Homo sapiens: one gene and its partners. The protein of the gene in region 1 interacts with the protein of each later gene in a pairwise test. Each region holds a gene or a part of one and is shown on either strand. Other genes may lie near its edges.

Region 1 (3,656 bases):
TTACTTTCAGTTTCTAAAGAGAAAATACATCCTTACCCAAAACTTACCCGCTTCTCCTTGAGTGCTGGGCTGTCATCCCCAAGGGCAAGACGAGAAGCACAGCTCCGGAACTCAGCCAGGCCCAGGATTGGCAGATACTCGTGATTTAGGCTATTGTCATTAGCAATCTTCTGCTCCACTTTCTTCACTACTGGCAAAACCCAGGGATGGCAGTCATCCGTGCGATATGCTGGAGAATGGAAAAGAGTTATACATAGTGGAGGCTCATGCTGTGTCCAAGTTAAGAGTTTGTAACTGTGAACCAGGAGAATCCCACCACCTTCCGGTCAAAACAGAACAGTGAAGGAAATTGGAGAAAAGTTTGTTCACTTACTGAGTACCTAATTTGAGCCAAGCATTGGGCTAGGTGCTGGGCAAACATAAGGGCAGATGTGGTCCCCATCCTTGTGGAACTTACAGCTCTTAACTATGTGACCTCCAAAAAGTAGAATGCTGAAATAAAACTGGGACATCACAGAGCCTGGTCACATGAGAAAGTACATAGAAAAGCACTCTGCAAAGTAAAAAGCATCTTGCAAATGTCATGTCAATATCACTAGTGCACTGAGGTCTCTAGGCCATTGGCCCAGCAGTCTTCTTCCTTCTGCATCTCCCCAAGAGACTTCCAGAAAAAGCCTAGGTGCTACTTCCACATGAACCTGGCACCTTTAACACAAACATGGAGAAGGAGTGGAAGAAGGCCCACCACTCCTCTTGTCCCAGAGGAACAGAAATAAGACGAATGATAAGCAAATGCCCTGACGATTTCAATGACAGGTGACACAATCACCCAAGGACCCACTTAAACACATCTCTATCCTCTCTCTGTATTTTGACCTCAGCCAGTGTTTACCCTTCTGACTTCATCCCACTTCATCTGCCTCACCCTTTCATTGATCTAAATTGATCTATTTCACAATATTTGATCCTGCTCTACAGTAAACCTCTAAGCATTTCCTCTTCCTCTGAAAGTATTTTTAAGTCACTCTGAGTTATCCAGCACCAATTTTTTTCCCTACACTATTCTATGATTATGTTAGGATTAGAGCTTTACAGGGCAGTTACCTTAGCTTTGCACCCACGCCAATAATCTGTCCAAGTAGGATTCCTGGCAGGGGTCATTTGCCTCTCTGTTTGAATGTTTAGGTCCTCAATAATCCTACACTTACGCAAGTGATTTTGAAATGGAAACAAAATTTTAGAGTGATACTGATTTTTATTTTCTTGATTTCTGCCCAAAATTAATCCCTGACTTAAAAAAAAAATTACATTTTAGGGTTGTTGTTACCATTTACTGAACAACACGTGTTGATTGTAGAAAATTGGGAAAAGCCCAGAAGGTAAAAAATAAACATTATAATTAACATGTGATTGTGTTTTGAAATGTGAGAAGGCGATGAGATTTGATAGGGGTCAGGAGTAGACTGATATAGTTTGGCTGTGTGTCCCCACCCAAATCTCATGTTGAATTGTAATCTCCAGTGTTGATGGACCATGGGGGCAGATTTCTGCCTTGCTGTTCTTGTGACAGTGAGTGAGTTCTCACTACATCTGGTTTTTTAAAAGTGTATAGCACCTCCCGCTTTGCTCTCTCTCCTGCTGGGCCATGTGAAGGTGCTTGCTTGCGCTTCACTCTTCCTCCATGATTGTAAGTTTCCTGAGGCCTCCCAACCATGTTTCTTATATGGCCGGTGGAACTATGAGTCCATTAAACCTCTTTTCTTTATAAATTACCCAGTCTCAGGTAGTTCTTTATAGCAGTGTGAGAACTAACATAACATATAATCCCAGTACTCAGAGACAAGGAGTATGAAAATTTTGGTGTACAACCTTCTAAGCTTTATTTTTGATGGGCATATTCTTTTATAAAATATGGATCAAACTGTACATAGAATTTCAACATGCTTTTTTCCATTTAAATATATACTATGCATTTTTCCTCCTCATTAACTATTCTTCTAATAGGTGACATGTTTGCATGTCTCCATCCCATTCTTATCCTCTATCTACCTAGTTCTCAAATCCCTCCCTCCATAAATAACAACTGTTAGTTTCTTACATATCCTTCCTGCATTTCCCTATGCCTACACAAGCAAACACAGCTTCTTACATATGCCCTTTTAAACAAAAGGTAGCATACGGCATACTATACACTGTTTTGTGTTCCTTGCTTTTTCCACTTGAAAATCATTTTACATTTGCGCATAGAGAGCGTCCTTGTTCTTTTTTACAGCTGCTTAGCTGATGAATGTACCATATTTTACTTTGCCAGTCTCTTGTTGGACATTTGAGTTGTTTACAATCTTTGGCTATTAAAACAATACTTCAGTGAACGACCCTGTACATACGTCATCTCACATGTATGCAAATATATCTGTAAGATGCTGGGTGGAAAACAAAAGAGTGGGCTAAGAAGTATGTGTTTTTGTAATTTTGACAAATATTTCCAAATTGTCCCAATTGATACAGGAATTATATCAATTTACATTCCCACCAGCACTGTTTAAGAGCGTTTGCTTCCACACAGCCTTACGCACTGAGTGTATTTTTGCCAATATAATATGTCAAGTAGTTTTAATTTGCATTTATCTTATTATGAATGCAATTGGGTATTTTTCATAAATATGAGCCATTTACAACATCAGTTTAGTGGATAAATAATATTTGTTTTATATATAATTTATTAACTGTGTTGCTTTAAATTATTTGCTATTATAAACATTGTGATAAATGTTCATATATTTACACATATTCATGAGTGTTTTCTTAGGAAAAATATCTAAATGTTAATTTATTAGGTCACAGGATATACAGTAAAAAGACTTTATAAGATCATTTTGAATGATCAGCTAACTCTACCCTCCAGGAATATGTCATCTGCAAATCTGAGAAACATTTCAAGTTAGTAATAGAAATGTGGACAGGGCTACAGACTGACAGAGCCACTGACCAAATGCCTCTGGGTAGGTGAATCAAACAATACTCTCATACCACTCATAGTCTACCCTCCGGCTCTGGTGAATCTAACTCACAATATTTTTTTCTTTTTTTGAGACAGGGTCTCACTCTGTTGCCCAGGTGAGAGTGCAGTGGCACGAACACAGCTCACTGCAGCTTCAACCCCCTGGGCTCAAGCAATTCTCTTGCCTCAGCTTCCCATGTAGCTGAGACCAAAGTCATTCACCACCAGGACCAGCTAATTTTTTTTTTTTAAATTTTTCATAGAAACAGGGCCTCACTTTGTTGCCCAGGCTGGTCTCAAACTCCTGGGCTCAAGCAAACCTCCCGCCTCGGACTTCCAAAGTGCTGGGATTACAGGAGTGAGCCACCATGCCTGGCCCAACTCACAATACTCTCATACCATTCATGATATACCCCTTAGTCCACCAAACTTCTCAACAAGTTCAAAAAGCCTCCTTCGCCAGCTGGGATTTGGTCTGGCTTCTCTAAAGATGTACCAAAATAGCTACTTCCAAGTAAGAGTTGTCCCTAAAGCACATCAACATATCTATGATCACAACGTTACCATTGTTCAAAATATTCTTGAAACTTCTTTTGGAATTGTTTCTAGAGGCAACATCTCATTATTTTGAATAGCCTCAATAGTGCCAAATCTT
Region 2 (3,656 bases), on another chromosome or scaffold:
ACGAGGATACCTGTCTCCAGATCTCAGTAAGGTACGGAGTAACTGTCCAAAAGCCATGAAGAGATTAATGGCAGAGTGCCTCAAAAAGAAAAGAGATGAGAGACCACTCTTTCCCCAAGTAAGTAAAAGCTTCATGCTATCCAAAAGAACAGACTAACATTCATAGACAGATTTCTGAGCACTTTTTTGGGCACACAGTGTGTATTTCATGAGTTTGGATTCTATGTGCAGACTCCAGACAAGAAAACACATTAAGATGGCTTCATGAGGGTTGAGCAGTGGCACACCTAGAAATTTTGGGTCCTAATACAAAATATTCAGAAAGACTTTGCATTTGTCCATCAGTTCTCAGACTTCTCAGTCTTTGAACTCTTTTACACATTTAAAAATTATCGAAGACCCCCCCCCCCACAAAGAGCTTTTGTTTATATAAGTTTTAATTCCTTATTAGAAATTAAAACTATTTTTTAAAATATTAATGAATTAAACATAGTAAACCAATATGTTAAATAATATTTAGAAAAAAACAGTTCTATTATCTAAGAGAAAAAAATTAGTGAGGAGTTGTATTGTTTTACTTTTTTTGCAAATCCCTTTGCAAAAAGAAGACAGCTGGATTCTCCGCTTTTGCACTCACATTGCAATATCTCACATCATGTCACCCCTAAAAACTCTACTTAACGCTTGTAAAATAATGACAGTAAAAAAGGCAAATGATATCTTATTGTTATTACAAAAATAGTTTTGACCTCGTGGATCCCCTGGTGGTCCACGGACCACATTTTGTGAACCACTGCTTTATTTCTTCTTGGTGGTAAACAGATTCAAGCTTTCCTTTAATACTGGGTCTTTTTGAGGGGCATTTCTGCCTGATGCAGAAAAAGGAAAAGGCAGTAAGGCATTTGTCAGCTCAGCCTGCCTTTACCTAATTCTTGATAACTCACTGCTTTTTTTTTTTTTTTTCCATATTGGAAGGATAAAGCCTTAAGTTAACAAATTTCAAAAAGAACTGTAACTAAGGCCAGGTGTCGTGGCTTACAAATCTCAACACTTTGGGAGGCCAAGGCAGGCAGATCAGTTGAGGTCAGGAGTTCGAGACCAGCCTGGCCAACATGGTGAAAACCGTCTCTACTAAAAATACAAAAATTAGCTGGGCATAGTGGCAGGAGCCTGTAATCCCAGCCACTCAGGAGGCTGAGACATGAGAATCGCTTGAACCCAGGAGGTGGAGATTGTAATGAGCTGAGATGACACCACTGCATTCCAGCCAGGGCAACAGAATGAGACTCTGTTTAAAACAAAACAAAACAAAAATATCTAAATACCTCAACTAGCTTACAGAGTTTAGCTGTAGTAGATATTATAATATAAATGCAATGTTTTCTGATACTTAGGGAGCTCCTGATAGCACTGGATAAATATGCCTTGATGAATCAGTACAGTTTCAAGTGGGAAGTGCTATTTCCCATAGTAACCCTGCTACCATAATTACTGGAGTGTTCATGTATGAACTCTTAGGCCTTTGAATGCCCAGTCCTAGCTGAGTAACTCAGACAGAAGTCAATGTTACAGGAATTAGATTCACTCATCCTTTATTTTTAAATCTAAAAAATGTTATTCTTCTCTAAAGAATGAAAGAAGATAAAATTGATGGTTTTAACAAGTCTGTCAGGGTGTTGCCTAAGAAAAGAAAGGGAAAGCTAAGTGGTTGGCTGGGTAGATATAAGTTTCATTTATCAGGTTTCAAAGTTACTGTTCCTTTGAGGAAGAGTTTTTATTTTTTCTTTTTATTTTTTTATTTGTTTCTCTAAGTCAGGAAACCTCTGGGTTGAGACTGTCCTGGTGAGAGACAAGTGCTGCTGAGCAGCTTCAGCATGACCCTGTCCCATGTTCTCTTTTCACGTCATGGTGCTCGGGTTCTTACTTAGAATGTTTATTGACATTAATAATGCAAAGTACATCCTTAGGCCCACTTTTTAAATGATATTAAAAGGGGCAAAATGCTTAGCTCCATACTTCTAAATATAACATTTCATTAATTACATGGTTTCAAAAACTGAAGTGCATATGTGAACTTTCCAGATTATTGGAGGCTATCCCTTTAAAGTGTTATTTTGAAATTTTTGTTACAGGATATCTTTTCACACCATACTGTTATATGCCACATAAATTTTAGATGGCTGAAGATCTATATGTTTTATAAAATATGAAATCATTTTTATAGTTTTGAGGTAGGAAAGGCTTTCTTAATAGACAAAATTCAGAAGGAAAAAATTAGCAGATGTGAGTACATTAAAAATTTTTAAACTTCTATATAGAAAAATAACATTGAAAGATAAAAAGAATAATTGTAGCATATATAACAAAAAGTAAATGTTTATAATATACAAAGGACTCCTCCAAATCAATAAGTAACAAACAATAGAAAATGGGCAAAGGGAATATGAACAGGTGATTCACATAATAAATACAAATGGTGAATGAACTTAGGAAAAGGTGTAAATATTTCCATGGCAGTCAGTAAAATGCAAAGACACAACAGTGAAATATATTTTAATTTCGCCTCTCAGGTTGGTAATATCCAGCACTGGGAACAATGTTGGGAAGTGAGGAGGAGCATTCTATGTAAAATTTTAAAGGTTTGGTGGAAGGCAGCATTTTGGAAGACCTTGGTAGAATCCATAAATTCAAAATACTTCTAAAAATCTGTGCTATGTAACCTATTTCATAAGTATTCAGATATATATAAGAATGTTTACTATAATAAGAAAAAGACATTAAGATTAAGTTAGTTTTGTATTGATGACATGGATATTGGTGAGAGAAAAAGAAAACAAGACAGAAAACAAAATGTAGTATGATACCTCATTTTTTTTTTTTATAGGCTGGGCCTGTTCTGTTGCCCAGGCTGGAGTGCAGTAATATGATCATAGCCCACTGCAGCCTCAAACTCCTGGGCTCAAGCGATCCTCTCACCTCAGCCTCCTAAGTAGCTGGGATTGCAGGTGCCTATCACCACACCCAGCTAATTTCTTGTGGTGGTGGTGGTGGTGGTTGTAGAGATAGATTCTCACTATGTTGCCCTGGCTGGTCTTGAACTCCTGGCCTCAAGCGATCCTCTCGCCTCAGCCTCCCAAAGTGCTGGGATTACAGGCGTGAGCCCCAGTGCCCAGCCTGATAACCACTTTAAAAGGTTAAACAGAGGCCAGGCACGGTGGCTCACGCCTGTAATCCCAGCACTTTGGGAGGCCGAGGCAGGCGGATCACCTGAGGTTGGGAGTTCGAAACCAGCCTGACCAACATGGAGAAACTCTGACTCTACTAAGAATACAAAATTAGCCAGGCGTGGTGGCACATGCCTGTAATCCCAGCTACTCGGGAGGCTGAGGCAGGAAAATCATTTGAACCCAGGAGGCGGAGGTTGCGGTGAGCCGAGATCGCACCATTGCACTCCAGCCTGGGCAACAAGAGTGAAATTCCATCTCCAAAAAAAAAAAGTGGTGTTCAGGTGGGCCTTGTTTTCATGTATGTATTTTTATACATAAAAAAAGGTACTGAAGAGGCCAGGCGCAGTGACTCACACCTGTAATCCCAGCACTTTGGGAGGCCAAGGTGGGTGGATCAGTTGAGGTTAGGAGTTCGAGACCAGCCTGGGC
Region 3 (3,656 bases), on another chromosome or scaffold:
TTAAGTAATGAAGATAAATACATTGCAATAAAATTATTTTATTTTAAAGTAAATATAACTTTGCCAGATTTTAATCAATTAACAGCAGTTTAGAGATATAGATATACATATACATATATGTGTAGAATATATACTTTTTTTAAACAGGAAGGCATACTTTATGATATATAATCTTTTTACCACAAACTATATACACTTCTCAGATATTAAATCAAACTAATATACTAGGAAGACACTACTACTTGGGACCAGTGCAGCACCTTTACAAGTAGTTTAACTTTTATATGTGACTTTAGTAACACCATTATACAAATAAGCCATCTTACGGGCATTGTTTTGGCAGTGGAAACCTATAAGACACAGGTTGAATTTCACAAAAAGATCTGCAACTTGACGACTACTGCTTAGCATATCTTTGTACAAAATGTGCAGTACCAGGTGCAAGTGTAGCACAGTTGCTAATAGCTGAAAACCGGCACGAAAACTTTACTGCCCTTTGGAAACTGGACAGAACAATCTGGAACTCTCATCTCCTGTTGCTCCTCTAACGATTTAATATATTCTAAATACCTTTATGTGGAAATAAAAAATAACAGGACAAAAGCAGGCTAGGGAGATTGCATTTCTGTCAGTAAAATTTCTCAAATCAACACATTCATCGAGTTTCTGACATTGTTCTTCGAGCAGCCGTCATCTGTCTAATGCAAAATGTGGCTTTGCTTTGTCTTGTTGCAAAAGGAAAGAAAAGCTTTTGTTCAGAGCTTTAGAAAAGTCGGTTCAGTCCACATAATGCATTTTCTCCTTCAATTCTGAAAAGTAGCTAATGCTCATTTGGTAGTGAAGTGCTGCAGAGGAATGTTCTCTTGCTCCTTCTTTCACAAAATTACTTTATGGACAGGTTTCGAACATGTCACTCAACCTCAAAACATGGTGCAGGCTTCTTGGTGGATGAGCTTACATTATCTGAGGGGCGGTAGGAAAGCGTGCTCATTTTTGTTGAAAGGTTTGAGTGGGATTTGGCTTTTGGGGGAATATATTTTAGAAGCTGGAGAAAATATCTTTTAAATTTTTTCCCCAGAAAGCCATAAAAAAGAGGATTCAGGCAATTGTTAAAATAAGCTATACAAATGGTGATAGGCATGGCCGTGTCCACAATATCTGCAATTCTACAGTCACGTATGATGCCTAGTTGAATCAATACATCCAGAAAAGTGAATATTTGGTGGGGAATCCAGGAAAAGAAAAAGAAAAGCACAATTGCCATAATTATCTTAAAAATATCATCATTTCTTGGTTTGTTCTTCTGAATTTCATAAGCCTTCTTTAGGGCCTTCCAAATAAGAGTATAACTTGTAAGAATGATCAGAAAAGGAAACAGGAAACCCAGTATATTTTTGGTCAGGCCCAGCCCTATCGGGAGGGTTGAATTTTGGGACTCATAATGGAAAGCACAAACTGTAATATTGGTGTTCTCAATGAAAAATACATTTCGATGGATTATAGCTGGCAAACTGGCCAAGCCTGCCAGCAGCCAAATGATGATGCAGGTGACTTTGGCTACAAGCATTGTGCGTCGAAGGCGGGACTTCATTGGGTGAACAATAGCCAGGTATCGATCAATGCTGAGACACGTGAGTAGAAACACACTAGCGTACAGGTTGAAACTGACGCTGGCTGAAGCAATCTTACATAGGTAATTGCCAAAGGGCCAGCGGTATTCCATAGCTGTGTAGACAGCCCATAGTGGCAAAGTCAGTAAAAAGCATAAGTCAGCCAGTGCTAAATTCAAAAGAAAAACACTGGCCACAGTCTTCAGCTTCATATAAAAGTAAATGACTATCACCACCAAGCTGTTTCCAAATATTCCCACCACAAAGATGATACTGTATAAAGTAGGAATCATGACAAATATGTAATTATGCCTTCCAGCTTTGGGACAATCATCTTGGATTCTTTTAATACCATCTTCAGTAGAAGAGTTGAGAATCATTTTGATCACCTGGGTCGAATTTGTTGCAAACACTATATCAAATACACCTGGGGAAAATAAAAATAAAATGGTAAAGAAAAAATTCTTATTGTAAACAAACAAACTAACAAACATTCATTTCTCAGTCATAAACGTAGTAACTCAACTTTAGTCTTAGGAAAAAATACTGGATCATATTTCTTAAGGAAACACTGTGAACTGATAAAGCCTAAGAAAGCACACTTAAATTTTAGAACATAATTGCTTTTGTAGAAAATGGTATCATCCAGAGAAGTGAAATTGGGATTCTATGTGAATAAACCTATCTAGGTCCTTTTCCTTTTTTTCTATAAGTAAATCTTGGTTTCCAAATTGATTAAAAACATAACCTAAATCTTAGAAAATACTACTGAATTAAATTAGTTTTTCAGAAAGACTTGAAAGTTTTTCCTGAGGTAAGCAGGACCAATTCATTTATCATTAACCTCAGAAGTGTGACACATTCATATTCTTTAAACCATTTCTTTCCTCTCACAATCTTTACTTAGGTATAAAGATTATAAGTATTCTCCCTTAAGTGGTCAGGATAGCTGCCTTTAGGTGACTGACAAATTGGTCACTGTGGCAATTGATTTAAGAGGCGTAGGAGGTAGGGCTCGACTTTGAGGAATAGGATTTTTTCCATGGTTTTCCAGGCCTCTGCAGTCAGTAACTACTTACTCTTTAACTTCCAATTCAGTCTAGCAAAAGTGCATGAATCTTCTAACCTTCATACCTGCCAGCCATTTCTGAAGTTAACTCTGTGGTTAACCATTTGTGTAACAAAGATGTCAAATGAATAGGTTTGGCTAGGATTATCAAGAAAGCATGTCTTTACTGAGGGCTTGAGAAAGCAGCAGGTTTTTTAGAATTCTGGGGAGAATCAGATGCTCAAGAATGGGCTGCACAAAGCCATGCAAATATTTGCTCTGATTTTCTACATAATCAACAGTCAAGCTATTCATTTATGTGATTTAGAAAATCAACACATTCTGCCCTGGATAACAGTCCATCAGGAAGTCCCAGGAAGGAGGCTGAAGGTTCAGTGAGAGTGACATCACCGAATGTGGTACAGCCACACTCTGAGGTGAAGGTCAGCATTGGGCACAGGCCAGGACAGCTAGGTGGGCAGTGGTGCTGGGCACACAGATCCTATTGCTCTACCAGGAGCAGGTCCCCAGATGAACATGGCTGAGCATTCTCTTGCAATGGCATGCCCTGGGGAAAAAGAGGAGCAGAAATAAGACACCACTGCCATGCCAAGCATGGTTGTGCTTGGCATTCAGGAGAGCTGAACACATGTTCTTAGAGTAGTGTTCACTTTGGTGCAAAGGGATGCTGTGCAAGGGATACAACTCCAGTAGTCAGCTTTTAAGACATAACACATGTGAAGGAGTTCTTAAGTGGTCTCTTTGCCTTCCCTGAGTAAGTAAAGTTGTTCTCCCTATGTAAGTTTTTGGTTGCATGTCCTCATTATTGTTCCTTTTTGCATCCAGCTTATATAATGTACATCCTTTTCTTCTTTGACTCACCAGGACATTAGTATCCACAAACAGGTGTTATCTACCCTAAATGTCACATCTTTGGTGAAGCCTTCCCAACTTTTTTGAGCACTTTGACATTTTGGATGTAGGTTTGACACTTTTTT

What was found.
Region 2: the proteins of GOT1 (region 1) and BRAF interact in a protein complementation assay, tested with the Homo sapiens proteins (one large-scale study listed by IntAct).
Region 3: the proteins of GOT1 (region 1) and AGTR1 interact in a two-hybrid assay, tested with the Homo sapiens proteins (one large-scale study listed by BioGRID and IntAct).

Annotation. Positions count from the first base shown.
Region 1 is NC_000010.11:99,420,577-99,424,232, forward strand, and holds part of GOT1 (aspartate aminotransferase, cytoplasmic), read right to left. Parts: intron 230-3,656; coding exon 48-229; intron 1-47. UniProt on the Homo sapiens protein: Biosynthesis of L-glutamate from L-aspartate or L-cysteine. Important regulator of levels of glutamate, the major excitatory neurotransmitter of the vertebrate central nervous system. Acts as a scavenger of glutamate in brain neuroprotection.
Region 2 is NC_000007.14:140,736,274-140,739,929, reverse strand, and holds part of BRAF (serine/threonine-protein kinase B-raf), read left to right. Parts: coding exon 1-118; intron 119-3,656. UniProt on the Homo sapiens protein: Protein kinase involved in the transduction of mitogenic signals from the cell membrane to the nucleus. Phosphorylates MAP2K1, and thereby activates the MAP kinase signal transduction pathway. Phosphorylates PFKFB2.
Region 3 is NC_000003.12:148,739,370-148,743,025, reverse strand, and holds the end of AGTR1 (type-1 angiotensin II receptor), read right to left. Parts: intron 3,227-3,656; exon of another isoform or gene 3,070-3,226; intron 2,038-3,069; 5' UTR 1,991-2,037; coding exon 911-1,990; 3' UTR 23-910; downstream 1-22. UniProt on the Homo sapiens protein: Receptor for angiotensin II, a vasoconstricting peptide, which acts as a key regulator of blood pressure and sodium retention by the kidney.